2 separate regions of the Homo sapiens genome follow, and region 2 is linked to region 1. The links come from fine-mapping of genetic effects on gene expression. A gene starts in region 1. The other region holds a variant in brackets. All regions are shown on one strand. Distances are between the middles of the regions. Region 1 holds the start of FUOM (fucose mutarotase). Region 2 overlaps PAOX (polyamine oxidase).

Region 1 (8,320 bases):
CACGGCATGACAGCCTTCGTCACCCAGCCTGTGAGGGTCCTGACTGGAGCACCTTCTAAATCTAAGATTCTGCTGAGGAGCCCCCGCTGGTCCCTCTGGGCATGCTGTGCTCGGACGGAAAGCGGGGCCTGCGGGTCCTTGTGTCCCTGCCGCTGAAGAATGGGGCTGCTCTGAGGGAAACGCTGTCTGCTGCCTTCATACAGATGCTGATTAAAGTGATAGCGATTCAGATTACACCACGCCTTGTAGTCATGTCTGCAATGAGCATTCTGTCATGTTAGTTGTTTTTTTAAACTTTTTTGTTTTTTCACTGTAAGGAACAACATTCAAACAAAACAAGTTTGTATAGTCAGTTGCCTCACATCATACTTCCAGGGTAGCCACTGTGAACAGCTGGGCTTGTGACTTCCTAGAGTTCTGTGCACGCACCCACACACCCCTGCACACGGGCACAGGCATGGTCTATGGTTTTCTTCCACGCCCACTCACGTCGAGCCCTTTCCTCACGAGAGCCCACCCTATTTTCTTCCTACTTCTGTCATAAGGAGCTCTCTGTTCAGTTTACTGCATTCTTCTCTACTGTGGGAACACACGACGTCAACTTGATCATCTTAACCACTGTGTTTTAGAGACGGGCTGGAGTGCGTGGCTCAGTCACAGCTCACTGCAGCTTGAATCTCCTGGGCTCAAGTGATCCTCCCCCCCTCCCAAGTAGCTGGGACCACAGGGGCGCACTCCCACACCCAGCTGACTGTTTAAATTTACCTTTTGTAGAGACGGGGTTTCCCCGTGTTGCCCAGGCTGGTCTGAACCATTTCAAATGCACATTTCAGCGGCATTAAGTACGTTCTCGTTGTGCAGCCATGACTATCCAAGAAAGCTTTCATTTTCCCAAACGGAAACTGTCCCCGTTAAACAACAACCCCTTTTCTGCTTCCCTCCAGCTCCTGGCACCCACGCTTCTACTTCCTGTCTCTATGGAGGGACCTCCATTTATCCCTTTGGGTCAGGCTCATTTCACTCAGCCCCACCCCAAATCCCTGGGTTGAAATCCTAACCCCTACCGTGACTGCATTAGGAGGGGGGACTTTGGGCAATGACTAGTCACAAGGGCAGAGCTCTTCGAGTGGGTTTAGTGTCCTAGGAGAGAGAGGGTGGAGCTCCTCCAGTGGGATTAGTGCCCTATGAGGGGGCGGAGCTCCTCCAGTGGGATTAGTGCCCTATGAGGGCAGAGCTCTTCAAGTGGGATTAGTGCCCTATGAGGGGGCAGAGCTCTTTGGGATTAGTGCCCTGTGAGAGGGCGGAGCTCTTTGAGTGGGATTAGTGCCCTATGAGAGGGCGGAGCTCCTTCAGTGGGATTAATGCCCTAAGAGAAGGCAGAGCTCTTCCAGTGGGATTAGTGCCCTATGAGAGGATGGAGCTCTTCCAGTGAGATTAGTGCCCTATGAGAGGGCGGAGCTCCTCCAGTGGGATTACTGCCCTATGAGAAGATGGAGCTCTTTGAGTGGGATTAGTGCCCTATGAGAGGGCGGAGCTCCTCCAGTGGGATTAGTGCCCTATGAGGGGGCGGAGCTCCTCCAGTGGGATTACTGCCCTTAGGAGAGCCCTGAGGGCACTCTTTCACCCCTCCCACAATGTGAGTGCTCTGTGGGAAGGTGCTGTCTGTAAACCAGGGTGGGCCTCATCACACACCGAACCTGCCTGGAGCCTTGGCCTCCAGAACTGTGGAAAGTCAGTGTTTATCAGCCACCCAGACCATGCCACTGCATCACAGCAGCCCAAGCTAAGGCACATACTGTCCAGAAGGTTTGTGCCTGTTGTGGCATGTTTCACCATTTGATTTTCTCACTAAATGACAGTCCTATAACATTCTTTTTAGTGGCCCTGACGTTTCATACTATGGACATGTCATCATGCCCTTGGTTCTAGGTATTTCCCCCAGGGAAGCCCACCTGCCCCCAGCTCAGTGCAGACGCCAGAGAGCGTTTGCCGGTGTCTCCTCCACTTGGCCCCGCAGCTCAGTGTGCGTAGGTGGTCTAGATTGTGGTCATGGCCTTGGGTTGGGTGGGCAGAGTGTGTGAGCCCCCACCGCTGAGGACTTGGGCTGAATACCAAGGACAGGTTCACCTGCATCAAGAAAGAAGAACAGTGATCTTTGCCGAGCTCTGGTTCCCTGAACGCTGCAGGTGCCACGCCCGTGTGTCCGGTTACATGTACACGCAAAGGGGACACACGCATGCTCTGCGACCGCTTGCCTCGGAGGCATTGGCTCTGCACTCCCACCCACCCCGTCTGTCCTCCTGTGTGCTGTGATTGGAGTCCACTAGTTCAGAGCCGGCTTCAGGGTGGAGCAGGTTTATCTCGCTTCTGCCAGGGCAGGTGGGAGTTCTCATGCAGTTGGCCTTAAAACAGGCGGGAGATGTTCTTTTCAGATAAGCCTCAGATAAGCCTTGGGATCTGGGACTGTTTGACAAATACTGAAACAGGTACAAAGGGAGTTTGATTCAGGTCCAACAGGGCATAACAGGCTCTTCCCTTGGGGTAGGGAATCTGGAACCTGCTCACTTACTGGAGTGGAGCACGTGGAGTCTGCGTGGGTCATGAACCACTGGCCCTGGAGCCTGGAGTAAATATGCAGAGATAGATAGGCACCAAATGTTCAAGTATGCAAGGGAGGAAGCCTGAACATTGAGAAAATCCACTCCGTTTAATTTTTCATGTGCACTGGGGTCAGCCTCCATAATCTGATTTCAAGCAATGGAACCTCAGAGATCCGTAGGGCTGGCTGCAGCCTCACGTTCATACCTGTGTCAGCCACACTTGGCTGGAAGCCAAGAAAGGGCCCAGCATGGAAGCCGCATCTCAGAGGGCTGCGTCTAGTTATCTGGTTCCAGAGCTTGGCAGGGACAGACACCCAACCCTTAGGCTGGGGAATGGACTTTGTCTTCATGCTGGCCCCAGGGAGCCTGGAGGGAGGGGTGCCACTGTCCGGGGCAGGGGAACCCCAGACTCAGAGTGAGGCTTCCACTCACTCCTGAGCTAGTTGACCTCTGGCCCCATTATTGTTTGGGGTTTGATTAGGTGTTTTTTCTTTGTTGGTTTTGTTTTTTTTTTTGAGACGGAGTCACTTTCTGTCACCCAGGCTGGAGAGCAGTGGAGTGATCTCGGCTCACTGCACCCTCCGCTTCCCGGGTTCAAGCAATTCTCGTGCCTCAGCCTCCCAAGTAGCTGGGATTACAGGCACCAGTCACCATGCCTGGCTAATTTTTGTATATTTTGAAGAGACGGGGTTTCACCATGTTGGCCAGGCTGGTCTCCAACCCCTGACCTCAAGTGATCCGCCCGCCTCGGCCTCCCAAAGTGCTGGGATCACAGGTGTGAGCCACCGCGCCCGGCCTGATTTGGTTTTGAAGCTGAAAACTTTCTTGCCCATCTCTATAAAATCCTCTTGCCCTTGTATATTTGGGTAAACGGTGACTCTCCACTTACAAGTTGGAGTAGAAACTGCCCAGGTACAGCTCTGAAACCCGGTGGCCTCGGTGCAAAGCCACCCCTCATTGGCAGGCCCTGGGCAGCCCCGGTCTTCTCTCTGCCCGAGTGGCCGGCCCAGGGCCAGCTGTTCAGGTGCTGCTGGGTGCCAGCCTGGGTGGCCCCACCAGGCTTTTCCGACGCAGCCCAGGCCACTTCCCATGGGGACAGGCTCCTAGGGCCAAGCAGTTCAACATGGAGACGTCTGTTTCCTCCTGGTTTTCTGACGCGGCTTTGTCATTTTTCACATACAGATTGATTTTCAGAACTTTTTAGGAGCCGCCAGGCCTCAGAGCATTTGTGTCACCTCAGGGCTGAGGGCCAGGGCCGCAGTGCTAGCCCCACAGCTGGTGTCCAGCTGGGAATCATGTGGAAGAAGGTGGTTCCGCGGAGGGAGGGCCTGGCCAGCCTGAGCTCAGCCAAAGGTCAGGATGCCGCCATCCTGGGCAGGGGGTTGCAGGCCGCTGACACCGGGGGATGATGGAGGACCCTTAGGTGTCCTGGCACTTCGCAGCTGAGCCTGGAAGCTGGGCCTGGCTGCCCTCCTGGACTCCCCCCAAGGGGGTCCGAAGTCCTGGCTCCCGTGTCCCTTGCTCCCGGTCCCTCAGGAGCGTGGGCTGAAGGCCTGGGTCCAGCTACCCACCATGGTGACCCCAGGGACCCGGTGCGCTCCGGGCATTCTGCCAGGCCTAAGGGCAGCACGAAGTGGTCAGAGGGCAGAGACCCTCATGAGGGGAGGCCGCGGCGGTTGAACCCCTTCGGCCTGAGGGAGCTCGGGGTGGGAGGCTCGGGTAGGGACACTGGGGAGCCCCCGGCCACAGCGCAAGGGCACCCGAGTCTCGGACCTGGCGAGGAGCCCGTGGGCTGGCTGGGTGTTGCCCCCACGCCACGACTCAGCCCGCACGTCCCCAGTTCCTGGGGCTCCCCGCCCTTCCTTGAGCCGCAAGCGGACCCCAGCCCGCCGAACCCTAGGCCCGGCCCGTCCCCAAGCCCCAAGCCCGGGACCCTAAAGCCCCGCCCTCCAATAAAGCCCCGCCCTCCCCGTAAAGCCCCGCCTCTGCCCCTAAGCCCCGCCCTCCCCGTAAGGCCCCCGCCTCTGCCCCCAAGCCCCGCCCTCCCCGTAAGGCCCCGCCCCGGCCCCCAAGCCCCGCCCCTAGGCCCCGCCCGCCCCGTCTGCCGGGCCATGGTGGCGCTGAAGGGTGTCCCCGCACTGCTGTCCCCCGAGCTGCTCTACGCGCTGGCGCGGATGGGGCACGGGGACGAGATCGGTGAGCGCAGCGGGCCGGGGCCTCGGGGAGCACCCCGGGACAGGCAGGAGGGCGAGGCTTGCACGGGGACCCCCGGGCCGGGAAGGGCCGCGTCCTGGGGTGTGGGCGTTGCTCGGGCCTCCCTGGCTTCCGGGCAGGAAGCCCCCTCCCCCGCATTCTTTAGGGAACTGAGACCTCGTGGGGCTCTGGGCGGAGCCGGCCCGAGCTTCTCCCGGAGTCCCTCCCCAGACGGCCCGAGAGCCCTCGCGTCTGGGCTGCCCCCGAGGGTTCGGCGCTTTTTCTTCTCCTGGGGCCTGGGGTCCCGGGGCAGGGGTTGGGTGGCCGGGGGCCTGGTCCGGGCATCGCGGGCAGCCGCGCGTCCTCTGGCCCCTGGGGAGGCGGCCGGGTCCGGGTCGGCCCCCTGGCCTGGTCAGCACCCGACAGCCTCGCGGGCAGCTGTTGACGCCTCTCTGCCTCCCAGGCAGGGACCTTGCCCTCCCCACCTCCCCGCGTGGCTTCCAGCCCTGCGGATCTGACTGCGGCCGGTCGGCGGTGGGGGCGCCCAACTGGCTGACCTGAGACCTCTTGTGACCCACGATCTGCCGCCATGACTGGGTGGGAGGACGGGCGGCGCCGACCCCGAGGGCAGGGATAGGTGCCGACACGGGCTGTCCTCCCGGCTGTTTAGTTCTTGCGGACTTGAACTTCCCGGCCTCCTCCATCTGCCAGTGTGGGCCCATGGAGATCCGTGCAGACGGTGAGCGAGCCCCAGGTCCCCCAGGGCAGGGCGGGCGGGTGAGCGGTGCTCCTGGCTCTGAGGCTCCTCTGTGGCCTGCCGTGGCCCCAAGTCCATGCTTGCAGTGTGAAGGGTGCAGACAGGCAGGCGGGCGGGCGGGCTGGAGACTGAGTGCTGCCTCCTCTGCCCTCCAGGCCTGGGCATCCCGCAGCTCCTGGAGGCCGTGCTGAAGCTGCTGCCCCTGGACACCTATGTGGAGAGTCCGGTGAGGGCTGAGTCGCCCCTGCACCCTGCTGCTCCGTGCCTCAGTTTCCCCTTTTGCGGGCTTCATAGGGCCCACCTGCCTTGGAGTGGGGGGAAGCCATGTGTCCCCAAAGGGGCCCTGACCCTCACCAGGGGAGTCCCGAATGGTCACCTGACCAGGAAGGCTGGCAGTGCCCAGGGCCCCAGAGCTGACCCCTCCCTCTAGGCTGCAGTCATGGAGCTGGTGCCCAGCGACAAGGAGAGGGGCCTGCAGACCCCAGTGTGGACGGAGTACGAGTCCATCCTACGCAGGGCCGGCTGTGTGGTAAGCCTGCAGCCCCAGTTGTGGGGAAAAGGCCAGGGACCCTCTGTCTCCTGGAGGCTCAGGAGGAGCCAAAGACAGAGGGTCCCAAGCTCTGTCCTCAAGTGGTCTCCCACCCATCACCCTGAGAACCCCGGACCACTGGCACTCCTTCACCAGCCAGGTGGAAGAGGTGCACCTGGGCAGTGTGGCCCCTCTTCCTCTGCCCCCGAGCTTTCCACCTGCCCTGCCCCGCCCAGGATCCTGACCTGCCAGGTGGGTTGTCACCCACCACAGCCTGTGAGTGGAGCCTGGGGGACTCAGGATGCCTGGCCTCCACCTCCTCAATCTCCCCTGGAGGGGTGCCCCCTGGTCCCAGGTCTCTCGCCCCATCCTGGCTATGGTTGGTCAGAGGCTTAGCTGGGTGCTGTGTCTCACTCAGCCCTCTCCACACCTTGCCCTGCAAGGGGACAGGCCCATTTTCCTGGGCAACCCACTGGCAGGTCTTGAGCAGGGCCTCCATAAGGGGGGCCAGGGGCTCTTGTCCTGGGCAGGGGACTCCCCCCAGGACAGCTGGCAGGGGCTCGACAGTCTACTGAGCTGTCTGGGTGGCCCCAGGTCAGGCAGAGACCCAAGCATGGCAGGTTCCTCGTCCACCATGTCCTGGGACCCCCTGTCCTAGGCCTTGGGAGCCAGAGGCTGAGTGACCGTGGGGCCCTTGCCGGGGGAGAGCCCAAGAAATGGAACCCCACTTCCTGGTGCCCTCCCTGCTTTGGGCCCTGGGGAGTCCAGGGCTGGCCCATGAGGGTTTCTTGGCAGGGTTCCCTCCAACCCTGCCATTTTGTCTTCCAGAGAGCCCTGGCAAAGATAGAGAGGTTTGAGTTTTATGAACGGGCTAAGAAGGCTTTTGCTGTTGTGGCAACGGGGTGAGTTCCAGCTGGCTCAGACCTGCCCCATCCCCACTGGGGCCTCAGGAGCTGCCCCCATCCCCACCGGGGGGCCTCAGGAGCTGCCCCTACCCTCTTCTCAGCTTCTGCCTGGCTGAGGCTAGACGTCCCACAGAGTGGAGAGACCAGGGAGGAATTTCGGGGGGGCAGGGCCCCCATTTGCCTGAGCATCAAGTGGGTGAAGGTGGACAGGGTCTGCTCTGTCCCCCAGATGCTGAAGCAGGGTCTCGGCACCCTGGCCCTGCAGCCCAGCTCAGTGCTGGGCTTGGCTCCTCTGCAGGGAGACGGCCCTCTACGGAAACCTCATCCTCAGGAAGGGGGTGCTTGCCCTCAACCCCCTGCTGTAGGCCTGGTGAAGACCACCTGGGCCGGAAGAGGAACTGGGGGCACCCTGAGCTCCAGTACCACCACTCACAACAGGCCTCCCAGTGGCAGCTCCCAGACCTGGGCCCTGGCCAGGGCTCTAGGGGCCGGCAGTCTTGGGGTGGGCCCTGCCAATTGGGACGAGTATCCCTGATTTGTGAAAATGATGGAAAAACGTTCAGTCTCAAGAGTCCAATTCCAGCTCTGTTCTCACGCAGGCTTGTTTGGTGCTGAGCTCAAGGGAGGCTGCTGGCTCCAGAGTGGCCCCCACGTACCCTTGACGAACCTTGAGTGGGAAATCAGGCCTGGGGCCCTGGGGACTGGGCGGGGTGCCTGGTGCCCTGGGGACACCAAGGGCTGGAGTGGGGGCAGTGGCTGCCCTGGAGGCCTTGAGAGGGGTGGGGACTTCTGCCATAGCCCCTGGGCTGTGGACACCAAGGGGGTTCTTCACCGGGGTCCATTCCTTCCACCCGCAGGAGGGCAGGTGGCAGGGGCTGGCCTGGACGCTTCGGGAGGAACTGTCGGCTGGAGAGGCCTCGGTGTGGGCCATGCCCTATGCCTGTGGCATAGGTGGCCTCCCGCTGAAAGCCTCACTTGCCCTGGCAGGCAGGGGAGGTAAAGGACACGAGGTCATTTGGAGTCCAGTGCCAGGCAGAGGTGGGATGCAGGGGGTTCCTGAAAGGGGGTGCCTGGGAGGCTTGCCCATGGGATGCTTGGACTGGTCCCCAAGGATGGGGAAGAATAACCACCAGCCACTGTCCGGACCCTCGTCTTGCTCCCCAGAACTTGCTGCAGTGACAGGTACAGGAAGAAGATGGGGCAGGGCTGGAGTTTGAGGGACCAAGGGCAGGAGTGGGGATGACAGGGGCTTCCCCCAGGGCCTGGGGCTGGTGTCCCCGGGGCTCGAGGGGGCAAGTCCCAGGGTTCCAGACCCCCACTCCAGACCGCAGGAGAA
Region 2 (8,320 bases), 31 kb before region 1:
TGTTTGTTTTGTTTTGTTTGAGACGGAGTCTCCGCTCTGTTGCCCAAGAGTGCAGTGGCACGATCTCGCTCATTGCAACCTCCAACTCCTGAGTTCAAGGGATTCTCCCACCTCAGCCTCCGGAGTAGCTGGGATTACTGGCGCCTGCCACCACGCCGGCTGATTTTGTATTTTTAGTAGAGATGGAGTTCCACCATGTTGGCCAGGCTGGTCTCCAACTCCTGACCTCAAGTGATCTACCTGTCTCGGCCTCCCAAAATGCTGGGATTACAGGCATGAGCCACCGCGCGCAGCCTCAAGTACTTCAGGGTTTAATATAACAAACTGTTTCCAAATACTGACTGCAGTTCTGCTAAATTAAACCGATTAATTAATGAGGCTGAAATATTCTCCACTGTCCAAGACTAGACATAAATATAGTCGGATTTCAACTCTAAATCAGCAGTCAGCAACTGCTCAATTGCACACTGCGTTACAAGAGTATTACTCTACCGGAATTTTTATTTTTGAGACGGAGTCTCGCTCTGTCGCCAGGCTGGAGTGCAGTGGCGTGATCTTGGCTCACTGCAACCTCCGCCTCCCGGGGTTCAAGCAGTTCTCCTGCCTTAGCCTCCTGAGTAGCTGGGACTACAGGTGCGCACCACCACGCCCGGCTACTTTTTTTGTATTTTTAGTAGAGATGGGGTTTCACCATGTTGGCCAGGCTAGTCTCGAACTCTGACCTCAGGTGATCTGCCCACCTCAGCCTCCCAAAGTGCTGGAATTACAGGCATGAGCCATGGCACCCAGCCTCTACTGGAATTTTTTAAACAAGCTACTGAAAATACCAAACATGCTCAAATTCTAAGTACAAAAATATTGCCATGGTTCTGATGTTCTTAAACCACCTAATACCCTAACGCCTAGCTGTAAATATTTTTGGGCATGAGAGAGTGGCCCCTCCGTGGAAGACAGAAGCCTCCCAGGTGGTTTCTGGGCTGAGTGGGGGCAGTCAGGGCCTCCTGCTAGGTCAATGCCCCCAAGCCCCCTCCTCACCAAGCCGGTCCCTCACACCCAGAGGGGGCAGCCTGGGTCTTGCTGCCTTTCTCCCTGGGATACAGAATTGATGAAACCCTAAATGTCAATGATAAAGATTTTTGTACTTTAAGGAAGCTGCATTCCCTCATGGTCCTAGGAGCACAAAACCACAATAAAACCCTGTGGAATCTGAATTTCTCTCCCAGGCGTCTGATGGGCAGGTGTCCCCAGAGAGAACAGTCTGGTGACACAGCAAATGCAGGTGGGGCTGCTGGCTACAGAGGGAGGCTGGGGCTCGGGAGGGTGGGGTCAGGGAACATCCTAGGAGGGGCAATTTGAACAGAGACCAGAGGGTGAGAAGAGAGGAGCCCTGCAGATCCAGGCTGGGGTGGAGGGGCCGGAGAGGGGCCTGGACTCCCAGCACATTCACCCCAATACCACGTGGTACCCCAGCACTGCCCACACCCCAACATCCCCCGGCACCCAGCACACTCACCCCAACACCCCCCAGCACCCAACACTACCCACACCCCAACACCCCCCAGCACCCCAGCACTGCCCCCACCCCAACACCCCCCAGCACCCAGCACACTCACCCCAGCACTGCCCACGCCCCACACACTCCCTGGCTCCCATGGGCTGGGCACCGTTTCTCTTTTCAGGCCTTATTATGTATTCACTTCCTCCAGAAAACCCCCGGCCTCAGGGCAGGGCAGGGCACCCCTCATCTCCCCAGTGCCCTGCGAACCTGTGAAGTGGGCGCCTGATGCAGCATCAGTTGATGAGCAAGAGGAGGGTTGTCAGCTATGCTGTCATCCCAGGCAGCAGCCACGAGAATGCAGGGGCACGAGAAGCAACTACAGGACCCAGAGTTCAGGGAACCCAGAGTGTGGGGCCATGTGTGGTTGTGGGGATTGGAGACACAGGGCCCTGTGCAACCTGGGCCCGGAGCAAGACAAAGACAACAGCAGCAGATGCTGGAGCCCCAAGGCAGGAAGGACAGGACAGCCTCAAGGCAGGAAAGATGGCTCTGGGAGCTGTGGCTGTAACTTGCTTTATGTGTCCAGCATCTCCGTGAGCATCTGGTGTCTCAGCTCAAGTCAACCCTGGCCAGACTCCAATAACAGACACAAGAACTGAGAAGGTGGCCCTGGTTACCAAAAACCAGAGGACCCTCATTAACATCCCCAAATTTCAAGCCAGACTGAAATCTGTCAGAAGAAATGAGGGTCCCAGCCTACCCCCGACACGGGTGGAACAGAGTAGGCTGGGCCCAGCTAGAGCCTGGGCCTGGGCTGCTGCACCTGCGGGGCCCACAGACTGAGGAGGCGGTCGGCCTCCCTCCATCCCGACAGCAGAGCCCCGTGCGTCGTGGAGTAAAACGTGCGATGTGTGGCTTCCCCCGCAAACAGGATCTGGAGCTGCAAAGAAGAGCCAGGGTTAGAATGGGGATGCAATTCAGACAGCAGGGTCTGGGCAAGGAAACACAGAAAATGGCTCACAAGCATCCACCAAGAAGCAGGAAAACAGCTCACACACCTCCACCAACGGACGAGAAAAGGGCTCACGTGTACCCACCAATAGCCAGGAAAACAGCTCACACACATCCACCAACGGGCAGGAAAACAGCTCACATGTATCCATCAACAGCCAGGAAAACGGCTCACACGCATCCACCAACGGGCGGGAAAACGGCTCACACGCATCCACCAACGGGCGGGAAAACGGCTCACACGCATCCACCAACGGGTGGGAAGACGGCTCACACGCATCCACCAATGGGTGGGAAAGGAAGCCACTGCACCCCGCAGCTCAGGTGTGAACAGCTTTTAGAGAAAACAAGGGGTGTAAACACTGAATAGTGATCTGGCCTCAACTCCTGGATCACATATGGGGAGGGTGGGGGAGGGATCTGGGAGTCGGGTGGGCAGAGGAAGAAAGCTACAGCCTTATCTGATGTAATGAGAAGTCAATTAGTAACACCTGAAACTGAAAACTCAAGAAGCAACATTTCCAAGCAGGTTCACTGAAGAGAGACCATGAGCTGATTGGAAAACTGAACAGTGACTAAATATTGGATCATATTGAGGAATGATTATTAATTTTTAAGTGGGTAAATGGTATCATAGTTATATGGTTTTATTTTTATGTTTTCTGAGACAGAGTCTTGCTCTGACACCCAGGCTGGAGTCCAGTGGTGCAGTCATAGCTTACTCCAGCCTCAACTTCCTGGGCCCAAGCCTGAGCAGCTGGGACTACAGGTGCATGCTACCATGCCTGGCTACTTGTGTGTGTGTGTGTGTGTGTGTGTGTGTGTGTGTGGAGACCGACTCTCACTATGTTGCCCAGGCTGGTCTCGAACTCTTGGCCTCAGCAAACCTCCTGCCTAGGCCTCCCAAAGCACTAGGATTACAGGTGTGAGCCACTGCCCTCAGCATCATAGTTAAGTATTTTACAAGGATGTCTTTATCTTTTAGAAACAGGCACCAAAATATCCTGAGGTGAGACAATGTCCTGTGTGAGTCATGCTTAATAAAAAAGGGCGGGGGTGGGCGGGGAGAAGCTTGGCTTAGGGGAAGCCTGGTGGGCACTGAAAGGTTCTCCCTACTTTAGTATGTTTGACATTTTGCACAGGAAATGTATCTCAAAACGTGGTAGCAGAAACATGTTTTTAGAGATGCAGTAAACTTAGCGATGAGAATCAGCTGGGAGCACCGTCTGAGAAGGGCAAAAGGGGCTCCACCTGCCATTTTGGTTTTATTTTCTTTTGTTAGCACTGCAGAATTCTCTGACTTTTTAAGCTGTGTGTGTATAATTCTCACAAAAACAGTACATTTAAAAATTATTCTTAGTTTCAAAAAGAAAATGGCTTCCGAGTCTGGGATCCCAGCCCACCCGCCACTGGCTGGTGCTCCTGCAGCGCCCAGACTCGGCGGGGGCCTCTGCAGCGGGACCCACGCCCCCCGACTGGGGCACGCCACATACCTGGGCGCCGGCGCCGTCTGCAGGGAGGGGCTGAGCCAGCAGGTCCAGGTCGCCCCCAGTACTGCCCACGGCCACGTAGCTGTAGGACCCCCTAGTGTACGGGGCGCTGTGCCAGCGAGACCGCAGGACGCTCTTGGGCGCGGGGAGCCGTGGGTTTCCTGAGCCACAGAGACACTGCATGTTAACCGAGAACTCTCACCCACAGGTCTGCAACTGTTTTTGTCATTTTTAAAGATTGAGCAGTTTAACGTGAAAGATGCTATGCAGGAAGAAAAGTGAGCAGCAGAGTGTGTCAGGAGAGGCTCTTCCTGCCGCCTCTGACCCGAGAGCAGTGGGCTGGGACCCGGGGGCCTCTGACCCGACAGCAGCGGGCC[G/A]GGACCCGGGAGCTGTGACAGCAGCAGCTACTGTTTCCGAGCCTTGGGTTCCTCCTCTGTAAAAATCTGATCAAGGACAACGGCATTTATTTTGGTGGCAGAAGTAGGAAGTGTTTGCAAAGTCATTTCAGTTCCTCGGAGGTAAGAACTGTTACTGACCCCACTAACATGAGGAAGGATGGTCCCTGGAGATGTACAGAGTCAGCCAAATTTAGTTTTTCTCTGTTCTGCAAAGTCTAGTTTCTGTTTAGAGATCAACCAGTAACGAGCAGAGGCAGGAACCAGCGTGTGTGGTGAGTACCTACCTGTCACTCTCCGGAGCACTTGGGTGAGACACAGAAGTACTTCTTCATCCGACAGAGTCTCCATGAACTCAGACTCAAGTCCGGCAATGAACCCACAGAGAACGTGGACAGACCTGCATGGAGAAAGAGAGCCCTGGGATGACCAGACCTGCATGGAGAAAGAGAGCCCTGGGATGACCAGACCTGCATGGAGAAAGAGAGCCCTGGGATGACCAGACCTGCATGGAGAAAGAGAGCCCCGGGATGACAGTGTCCAGCCCAGCTCTCCGCCCGCGTTTCTCAGCAAGGAACCACTGATGGAGCAGGGGCCCCAGAGGCACAAAGAGCCACCCCACAGAGCGTCCCTCAGGCAGCAGTTCGCAGAGTGTGGGCGGCAAAGTCCTGGGGGTCCGAAGGCCCTGCCAGGGACCCTCAAGGTCACAGCCATCTTCAGACGCTAAGACAGCATTTGCTGTTTCCACCACGCCGACATTTGCACCTGAGCAAGAGCCAGGGCAGGTAAACCGTCCCTTAGCAGAATCAGGCAGCAACAGGATCCACATGCGCCTACAGGCGTTCCCACCACTGCACATGAGGGTTACAAAATGCTGCTTTTTGCAGCCGTCAAAGAACGAGATCATGTCCTTTGCAGGGACATGGATGGAGCTGGAGGCCATTATCCTTAGCAAACTAACACAGGAACAGAAAAGCAGACAGCACATGTTTTCCCTTTCAAGTGGGAGCTAAATGATGAGAACACACACTGGGGCCTATGGGAGAGTGGAGGATGGGAGGAGGGAGAGGAGCAGGAAAAATAACTAATGGGTACTAGGTTTAATTCCTGGGTGATAGAACTAATCTGTACAACAAGCCCCCATGATACACGGTTAGCTACATAACAAACCTGCACGTATATCCCTGCCTCTGAATATAAAAATTAAAATATATATATTAAAAAATAAATAAAAATGCTGCTTTCACTTGAGAATGTCCTTGATCAAAGGCAGTAAAAGTTACTAATTTTATTAAATCTTGATCCTCGAGTTCATGTCTTTTTAATAATCTGCGTGGAGGGCCAGGCACAGTGGCTCAGGCCTGTAATCCCAGCACTTTGGGAGGCCAAGGCGGGCGGATCACGAGGTCAGGAGTTCGAGACCAGCCTGGTCAATATGGTAAAGCCCTGTCTAATAAAAATACAAAAATTAGCCAGGCGTGGTGGCGGGCACCTGTAGTCCCAGCTACTCGGCAGGTTGAGGCAGGAGAATGGCATGAACCCGGGAGGTGGAGGTTGCGGTGAGCCAAGATCGCGCCACTGCTCTCCAGCCTGGGCGACAGAGTAAGACTCCATCTCAAAAAATAATAATAATCTGCGTGGAGAAGCGGGATCCGCATAGAACACTCCTGCTGCGCGTGGTGCACGGTGGCCGTGGAGGACTCACCTAGCACACGCTATTCCAGGCGGGGCTGGTGCGTCTTTCACAGACAGGCTCAGAACTCAGGAGAGCACCAGTCAGACAAATCATGGTGTGGTATTTGGTGACATTTTCTTGAAAATGAGCAAAGTGTCTCTATCACAGGAAAACAACTAACAAATAGTATTTATAGACAATGACAAAGTTTAAGCTCTCAAGCAAAAACTGCAATTTTAGAAAAGCTTGTTTCTGCCACCAACAGCATAACAGCTTCCCAATCCTGAAAGACTTTTCTGAGATCAGTGGTATGTTAATAAATTTGATTTTTTATATTGTATAATGAAATGTATCAACATTTGGAAGACTACATGAACCAATATATATATATTTTATTTTTTTAAGACATGGCCTCCCTCTGTTGCCCAGGCTGGAGTTCAGTGGCTTGATCACAGCTCACTGCAACCTCCGCCTCCTGGGCTCAAGCAATCCTCCCACCTCAGCCTCCCAGTAGCTGGGACCACAGGCACGCACCACCACATCTGGCTAGCTTTTTGTATTTTTGGTAGAGACTGGGTCTTGCTATGTTGCCCAGGCTGGTCTCGAACTCCTGAGTTCAAGCCATCTGCACACCTTGGCCTCCCAAAGTGCTGGAATTACCGGCATGAGCCACCAAGCCCAGCCTAGTATTTTCCAATGACTAAAGCCATGGATAGATAAAAGATCCATTTAAAGTGCAAGACAGACAAATAGATTTCAGTGTCACAGAAGACAAAAAATTCACTGGTGTGCTCTCCAATTTCATATTTGGCCAACCTTTAAGGAATTACTACTACATCTTGACTTTTGAGGTAGTATCAAAGAATACCCACAATCATTTCAAAAGCTATTTAAATATCACTCCTTTGGCCGGGCGCAGTAGCTCACGCCTGTAATCCCAATACTTTGGGAGGCCAAGGTGGGCAGATCACTTGAGGTCAGGAGTTCGAGACCAGCCTGACCAACATGGAGAAACCCCATCTCTGCTAAAAATACTAAATTAGCCGGGTGTGGTGGTGGGCACCTGTAATCCCAGCTACTCAGGAGGCTGAGGCAGGAGAATTGCTTGAACCCGGGAGGCGGAGGTTGCAGTGAACCGAGATCGAGCTATTACACTCCAGCCTGGGCGACAAAAGCAAAACTCCATCTCATAAATAAACAAATATCACTCCTTCTTCCAACCACATATCCATGTAGATCCACATTTTCTTCCTATGTTTCAACCAAAATAAAACATCACCACAGAATGAATGCAGAGGAGGCCTGAGAACCCAGATGTCTTCTATTAAGTGTAACACTGAAGAGTTTTGCAGAAAAGGCCGGGCGTGGTGGCTCACACCTGTAATCCCAGCACTTTGGGAGGCCAAGGTGGGCGGATCACTTGAGGCCAGGAGTTCGAGACCAGCCTGGCCAACATGGCAAAACCCTGTCTCTACTAAAACTACAAAAATTAGCTGGGCATGGTGGCACACACCTATAATCCCAGCTACTCGGGAGGCTGAGGCAGGAAAATCGCTTGAACCCAAGAGGCAGAGGTTGCAGTGAGCTGAGATCACGCCACTGCATTCCATGCATTCCAGCCTGGGTGACAGAGAGACCTTGTCTCAAAAAAAAAAAAAAAAAGTTTTGCAGAAAAGACAAAACTGCTGCCACCCTTCATTAAATTTTAAGAAAATATTCATTTAAAAATGTTATTTATGCTAACATAGAATAGGTTTGTTACTATCATCTCAAATAATAATTTAATTTATCATGTGGTGACTGGGTGCGGTGGCTCATGCCTGTAATCCCAGCACTTTGGGAGGCCGAGGCGGGCGGATCACGAGGTCAGGAGATCGAGACCATCCTGGCTAACACGGTGAAACCCTGTCTCTACTAAAAATACAAACAATTAGCCGGGCGTGGTGGTGGGTGCCTGTAGTTCCAGCTACTCAGGAGGCTGAGGCAGGAGAATGGCGTGAACCCAGGAGGTGGGGCTTGCAGTGAGCCAAGATTGCACCACTGCACTCCAGTCTGGGGGACAGAGCGAGACTCCATCTCAAAAACAAAAAAATATTTTATTTATCATGGGGTAAATTTACAGATGTGACTCACATAAACAAAAGCTCTTTGAGATCCCCAACCCTTTGCAGGTATATAAAAGGATGGGACAGCTACCACCCCGTGCCACAGACAGGGTCCCACCAAAGCACTCAGGGTCCCACTGATGTCC

What was found.
Region 2: its variant is fine-mapped to the expression of FUOM in whole blood (INTERVAL, PIP above 0.99). The same link has a PIP of 0.9 or more in esophagus mucosa, lung, sun-exposed skin, tibial artery, unexposed skin and visceral fat.

What each region holds. Positions count from the first base shown.
Region 1 is chr10:133,354,399-133,362,718 of GRCh38, reverse strand. FUOM (fucose mutarotase) reads left to right here and starts at 4,700. Exons shown (of 6, transcript NM_001098483.3): 1 at 4,700-4,796; 2 at 5,464-5,532; 3 at 5,706-5,776; 4 at 5,981-6,079; 5 at 6,908-6,981; 6 at 7,283-7,561. The coding sequence starts at 4,712. The coding sequence ends at 7,349. It overlaps ECHS1 (enoyl-CoA hydratase, short chain 1), which reads left to right. Exons shown (of 8, transcript NM_004092.4): 8 at 1-234. RefSeq lists silencers at 3,277-3,439, 4,472-4,551, 4,602-5,221 and enhancers at 5,372-5,471, 5,949-6,683.
Region 2 is chr10:133,385,430-133,393,749 of GRCh38, reverse strand. It overlaps PAOX (polyamine oxidase), which reads right to left. Exons shown (of 7, transcript NM_152911.4): 5 at 4,682-4,794; 6 at 4,003-4,160; 7 at 2,056-2,438. The coding sequence ends at 2,295. Among named protein-coding and RNA genes, the nearest start is that of MTG1, 4.6 kb to the left of the region's middle. RefSeq lists silencers at 3,862-3,941, 4,531-4,825, 5,082-5,239 and an enhancer at 4,992-5,121. The variant G/A (reference allele first, on the strand shown) is at 4,377.